Homo sapiens: one gene and its partner. Changing the gene in region 2 together with the main gene of any one other region gives a genetic interaction. Each region holds a gene or a part of one and is shown on either strand. Other genes may lie near its edges.

Region 1 (3,500 bases), on a different chromosome or scaffold from region 2:
CTCAAACTCCCGACCTCAGGTGATCTGCCCACCTTGGCCTCCCAAAGTGCTGGGATTACAGACATGAGCCATCGCACCCGGCCAAGATAAATGTCTTTTAAATTATCTCCATTAAAGACATAACCTTTATAACATTTTGATGTATATATTACCAGTTTTTAAACACATAGTAGATTTGTATAAATACATAAACACATATTATTGTGATCATGCTGCACTTAGACATCTTTATATTCTCCTTATACTGTAAACATTTTGAAATACTTTACTAACAACATTTGTAATGACCATTCTTTCTCTCTTTCTCCCTCTGATAGAATGGTCTACAGAGTAATTCATAAACTAAACATACTTTAGAGGCTGGGCGCAGTGGCTCATGCCTGTAATCCCAGCACTTTGAGAGGCTGAGGCGTGCAGATCACGAGGTCAGGAGTTAGAGACCAGCCTGACTAACATGGTGAAACCCCATCTCTACTAAAAAAACAGTACAAAAATTAGCCGGGCGTGGTGGCGTGCACCTAGAATCCCAGCTACTCAAGAGGCTGAGGCAGGAGAATCACTCGAGCCCAGGAGGCAGAGGTTGTAGTGAGCCGAGATTGCACCACAGCACTCCAGCCTGGGCGACAGAGCGAGACTCCATCTCAAAAAAAAAAAAAAAAGATACATTAATACTATAGCCTACATGTGGAACATTAAGAAAATAATTGCTTTTATGTTTATGCTTTATACCTGTTGTTAGCCCTGCTTCTTATTTCATGATTTCATGGCTTCACATTGTAACATCCCTTTACCATATTTTTTGAGGACTGTTTTGGCAGAATGTGTGAAATCTTGAGCAGAAGTATTACCCAAAAGTCAGAAGAAAATCAGATTTTTATTTCAAGATTCTGTTAAAGTTACCCACTCCCTTCTTTTACTTAATCTTATAGTTGCAGTTCTCTCTCTTTTTAGAAAAGAAAAAAGAGGCCCCTCAGGATTTGCAGATGAAACAATATTGCTCTTTAGAGATATCCATCTGGCTGTTAGATTATTTTTCCACAGTTTTCAGAAGTGGATGAGGCCATTAGAATCTTGAGTATTGCCCATTTCCTTATGTGTGCCTTTGACTATAGATAAAATAGATGCATGACAATTATTTATAAGTTGATTGATTTTTCTTGTCATTTAAATCATCTTGAATAATAGAGTTGGTAGAGCTATCCCATTTTTGAAATTATTTTGTTTTGTCAATAACTTTTTGTTACCAGCATGTACACTTGCATTGTTGACTCTCCATATAATACCTTTAAAAAATTTTTTTTTGTGGTAAAATATGCATAACATAAAGTTTACCATGGTAGTTTTCTTTCATTTGTTTTGTTTTTGTTTTTTTGAGACGGAGCCTTGCTCTGTTGCCAGGCTGGAGTGCAGTGGAGCGATCTTGGCTCACTGCAACCTCCGCCTCCCGGGTTCAAGCAATTCCCCTGCCTCAGCCTCCTGAGTAGCTGGGACTACAGGCGCCCGCCACCACGCCCGGCTAATATTTTGTATTTTAATAGAGATGGGGTTTCACCATGTTGGCCAGGATGTTCTTGATCTCCTGACCTCATGATCCGCCCACCTCGGCCTCCCAAAGTGTTGGGATTGCAAGTGTGAGCCACCGCGCCTAGACCATGGTAGTTAATTTTAAGTGTTCAATTCAGTGACCTTAAGTGTGTTCATAATGTTGTGCAACCATCACCATGTTGTCTAACCATTAGCACTATCTGTTTTGAGAACTTTTTTTTATCATCCCAAATTAGAATTCTGTACCTGTCAAATAGTCCCCAGTAATCCTCCCTCCCCCAGCCCCTGGTAATCTGTAGTCTACTTTTCGTCTTTTTGAATTTGCCTATTTTAGGTTCCTCATATAAGTGGAATTATGTGGTATTTGTCCTTTTGTGTTGGCTTACTTCATTTAGCATAATGTTTTCAAGGTTCATCTGTGTTGTAGCATGTATATACAGGTTGAAGCATCCGTTATCCAAAATGGTTGTGACCAGAAGTGGTTTGGATTTCAGATTTTTTTTTTGGATTTTGGAATATTCATAGATACTTAACTGGTTCAGCATCCCTCGTCCAAAAATCCAAAATCAGATGGAGCTCAGTGGCTCATGCTTGTAATCCCAACACGTTGGGTGGCCAAGGCAGGAGGATCGCTTGAGCCCAGGAGTTCAACCAGCCTGAGCAACACAAGACCCTATCTCTCCAAAAAAAAAAAAAAAAAAAAAAAGATGAAAGAAAAAAAAATCCAAAATCAAATGCTCCAGTGAGCATTTCCTTTTAGCATCATGTCAGGCTCTAAAAGTTACAGGTTTTGGAGCATTTTGGATTTCAGATTTTTGGATTAACCTGCATTAATGCTCAACCTATATGAAATTTTATTCCTTTTTATGGCTGAATAATGTTCCACTGTATGTATATACTACATTTTGTTTATCCATTCATCTGTTAACAGACACTTAAGTTATTTCCACATTTTGGGTATTATAAATAGTGCTGCTGCGAACATTGGTGTACATGTATCTGTTTGAGTCCCTGTTTTTAGTTATTTTGGTTATATACCTAGGAATGGAATTGCTGATCATATGGTAATTCTGTGTTTAACTTTTTGAGGAACTACCACTGTTTTCCACAATGGCATCACCATTTTACATTCCCACCAGCAATGCACAAAGATTTCAGTGTCTGTATCCTTGCTAACACTTATTTTCCATTTTTTGAGTTTTTTTGTTTTGTTTTTTTAATAATAGCCAATCCTAATGGGTATGTGGTAGCATCTCATGGTTTTGATTTTATTTTCCTGACTATTGATGATGTTGAGCATCTTTTCAGGTGCTTAGTGGCCATTTGTCCGTCATCTTTGGAGCAGGAACAATGTCTTTTCAAGTCCTTTGCCCATTTTTAAATTGAATTTTTTGTTGTTGAGTTGTATATAACACCTTTTTTGAAGTAAAAGGTGCACTGTAATAATCCAGACTGTGTTTCTCCCTTCTCAGGATTCCTACAGGAAGCAAGTAGTAATTGATGGAGAAACCTGTCTCTTGGATATTCTCGACACAGCAGGTCAAGAGGAGTACAGTGCAATGAGGGACCAGTACATGAGGACTGGGGAGGGCTTTCTTTGTGTATTTGCCATAAATAATACTAAATCATTTGAAGATATTCACCATTATAGGTGGGTTTAAATTGAATATAATAAGCTGACATTAAGGAGTAATTATAGTTTTTATTTTTTGAGTCTTTGCTAATGCCATGCATATAATATTTAATAAAAATTTTTAAATAATGTTTATGAGGTAGGTAATATCCCTGTTTTATAAATGAAGTTCTTGGGGGATTAGAGCAGTGGAGTAACTTGCTCCAGACTGCATCGGTAGTGGTGGTGCTGGGATTGAAACCTAGGCCTGTTTGACTCCACAGCCTTCTGTACTCTTGACTATTCTACAAAAGCAAGACTTTAAACTTTTTAGATACATCAT
Region 2 (3,500 bases):
CCTTCCATGGGGCTTCCTGCTCTGCCGCAGGTACCTTTTGTTGCCCTTGTCGCGGGCCGCAAGCTCTGCAGGCCGTGAACAGAGAGTGTCCGAGAGTGGAACTAGCGGAGGTGGGGGACAGACGGCTGGGCCGGTGAATGCTGGCCTCAAAGGCTGATGGCCCAGAAGCCCTGTCATCTGGAAATCCCCATTTGCCGTGGGGTGTGGGACGTTCCTGGGGCGGTGAGCTGTCAGGGAGCACAGCGCAGGCAGCTCTGAGGACCCTCCCTGAATCCGCATGCCTGCAGCCTACACCCTGGCCCGTGTCTACGGCGTGGAGAGTGACCTCTCAGAAGTGGCTCGCCGGGGCTCAGGCAGCGCCTGCCGGAGCCTGTATGGGGGCTTTGTGGAGTGGCAGATGGGAGAGCAGGCCGACGGGAAGGACAGCATCGCTCGGCAAGTGGCCCCCGAGTCACACTGGCCTGAACTCCGCGTGCTCATCCTTGTGGTGAGTGGGGTGGGGCGGGTGGAGCAGCAGCCCGGTGGCCTCTGTCCCTAGTCAGGGCTGCTGCCGGGAGCAGGAGCGAAGGCGTCCATCCAGGCTTTGCTTGGCTCCTGGGGTCAGCGGGGGCTGAAGGAACAGAAGCGTGGTTGAGTGCTCAGGAACCGCTCCCATGCGGCGGGCGCCACCACCCGCTGGGATCTGGAAGTTGCCCCTGCGTCACCCCTGCTGTGGCCGGGAGGCCTCTGTGGTCAGGCAGGTGGCACTGACTCCCACCCCCGCTGCCTGCATTGGCTGAGGGAGGGCCGAGTGTTTGAGGCTGAGGTCCTTGGGGCTGGCCCCCTGCAGGGTGTGGCCCAGGCTGTCTCTCCCTCGTGCAGGTGAGCGCTGAGAAGAAGCTGACAGGCAGTACCGTGGGCATGCGGGCCAGTGTGGAGACCAGCCCCCTGCTTCGGGTAAGGCCAGGAGCGGGTGGTCCCGGGGCCCTGGGAGTCACGCTTGTGCCCGGCTCTGCCCTCAGCCTCTGTCTGGGCCCGAGTGTTCTCACACCTGCGGCAGCCCCGCCAAGACCACGTGCAGGAGCCAAATGCAGAGATGGGGCTCGAGCCGGGCCTCCAACCCCGGAGTCTCTCCTCGAACCCTCTGCTGTCGAGACCCCCAGCGGCTCCATGGGAAACACCCTGTGCCTTGCAGTTCCGGGCCGAGTCCGTGGTGCCCGCGCGCATGGCGGAGATGGCCCGCTGCATCCGGGAGCGAGACTTCCCCAGCTTCGCCCAGCTGACCATGAAGGACAGCAACCAGTTCCACGCCACCTGCCTCGACACCTTCCCGCCCATCTCTTACCTCAATGCCATCTCCTGGCGCATCATCCACCTGGTGCACCGCTTCAACGCCCACCACGGGGACACCAAGGTGACGCGGGCCGGGAGGGCAGAGGCTGCGCTCGCGCTGTAGCGCGTGTCTAGGCTTGTGCTGCCGTGGAGACGGCCCCGGGGCTCGCGTGCAGGGCAATCTGTGTCTGAAAGCTCCACCCTGCTGTGTGCGAAGCTCACTGACCATCTGGGTTCTTCTGTTTCATTTTGTTTCTTGACTTGCCCGGGTCACGGCCCCACCACCTTCTTCCTGGGTTCACAGGCAGACGTGTCAAGTACCAGGCACTTGGGGTCACAGCTCCACTCCAGTGTGGCCCTGAGGGCCTAGACTGAGCTCTTGGAGAGCCCAAGGCCGCCTGGCAGACCAGAGGGTTGGGGAGACAAGGGTCAGGCACCACGTGAATAGCCAGGGTGACTGCTGTGGGTTCCAGGTGGCGTACACCTTTGACGCGGGCCCCAATGCCGTGATCTTCACCCTGGACGACACTGTGGCTGAGTTTGTGGCTGCTGTGTGGCACGGCTTTCCCCCAGGCTCGAATGGAGACACGTGAGTGTGGACCCCGCCCCTCCTCCTTTTTGGGAGATGGTGCCAGGAACTCTGGTCGGAAGAGACGGAGGCACCTGAAGGCTGTGGCGCTGAGACAGGGAGTCCCAGGGCAGGCAGCAGTCCCCCGAGTGTGGGAGCCACGGGCAGGGTGTCCCCATAGAGCCATCCCACAGCCCACGTCCACAGGGAAGAAAGAGAGGCCGCTCACGCGTGTGTGAGCAACGCCCAGGGTCTCCCACCTCCTGAGTGACAGCGTCCCCTGCAGCTCGGGACCCCGCAGGCTCTTATTCTATAGAACAGTGGCTTAGGAAACACGCCTGCACTCCCAGATGTGTGCGTAAGTGTCCGACATTTTGAAGGAAAGGAGTCAAAGCCCCTGATTTCCTTCTTACTGAAGCGAGTTAGAGCCAGTCAAGGCGGCCGGGTGTTGACCCCGCCCCGGCAGTTGGGTGTCTTTTCTTGGGTGGGGTCCGGCAGCTGCATCTTGGCGCCACAGAGCCCCCATGTACGCCCTCCTCGGTGCACAGCTTGGCCCTGAACCGCCTCTTCCCCTGCGCTGCTCTGTGGGGGTGCCACAGAGCCCCCATGTACGCCCTCCTCGGTGCACAGCTTGGCCCAGCCTCCTTACGCCCCGGGGCTGTTGATTTCTTCCCTCCCGTGTTTTCATGGTGTCTTATTCTCAATGTGAGAGGCGCCTCCCATTTAAGGGTGTCTGGAAGCGTGTGGGGATGTGCGTCTGTCCCGGGTGGGAGCAATAACACCTTCTAATGGTCAGGGGCCTGCCCTGTGGGGTGGACTCAGACCCACACCCCAGGACTGCCCGCCTGGGAAGCACCAGGCTCGTGGCTGCTGCTCCGGGTGGGGCTTGCAGGCTTCCGCTGTTCTGCAGAACACGGTGACGAACGCACCAGCTTGAATTGGGCGCTTCCCTGAGCTGTTACCCCATGGGGCTTGGCAGCACCCTTGGCCAGATGTGGGTCCAGCCTGGGCATAGCTGTTTACCACATAACCTAAAATTTCCTGTCTCAGCCATTCGAGAGCATATAATCCTGCGGTGTTGAGGACATTCACAGGGTCATGTGAGCACCACCTCAAGCCACCTCCTTAACTTTTTCATCACCCCTAAAAGAAACCTGTCCCCACAGCAGCCACCTGCCGTCTCCCCCTCCCTGAGCCCTGACGGCCAGGAATGCACTTCCCATCTCTGGACTTGCCTGTTGTAGACTGTTGTAGACGCTTAGAGAAACGGATGCATTCACCGTGCCCCTGCCCTGCTTTTCCAGGTTTCTGAAGGGGCTGCAGGTGAGGCCGGCCCCTCTCTCAGCTGAGCTTCAGGCTGCGCTGGCCATGGAGCCGACCCCCGGTGGGGTCAAATACATCATTGTCACTCAGGTGAGGCCTGGGGCTCACCCAGTACCCCGGGGTTTCCTTTCCTGCCAGGGGGGCCCGCCCAGCCCCCAGGGCCCTTAAAGGCTAAGCGCGGCTCCCTGTCCCTACCGTGTCTCAGGCAGGAAGCCAGAACGCCTTTGTCCATTCATTTGCTCTCAAAGTGGACATTACAGGCCACTGGTGATGCTCAGAGCAGCAGGGCTGCGCTGAG

What was found. Genes that interact genetically often act in the same process or in processes that back each other up.
Region 1: changes in MVD (region 2) and KRAS are lethal when combined (synthetic lethality), as found in Homo sapiens cells (2 studies listed by BioGRID, with this or other methods).

What each region holds. Positions count from the first base shown.
Region 1 is NC_000012.12:25,226,930-25,230,429, reverse strand, and holds part of KRAS (GTPase KRas), read left to right. Parts: intron 1-3,017; coding exon 3,018-3,196; intron 3,197-3,500. UniProt on the Homo sapiens protein: Ras proteins bind GDP/GTP and possess intrinsic GTPase activity. Plays an important role in the regulation of cell proliferation.
Region 2 is NC_000016.10:88,653,092-88,656,591, reverse strand, and holds part of MVD (diphosphomevalonate decarboxylase), read left to right. Parts: intron 1-287; coding exon 288-487; intron 488-861; coding exon 862-936; intron 937-1,174; coding exon 1,175-1,393; intron 1,394-1,784; coding exon 1,785-1,900; intron 1,901-3,183; coding exon 3,184-3,292; intron 3,293-3,500. UniProt on the Homo sapiens protein: Catalyzes the ATP dependent decarboxylation of (R)-5-diphosphomevalonate to form isopentenyl diphosphate (IPP).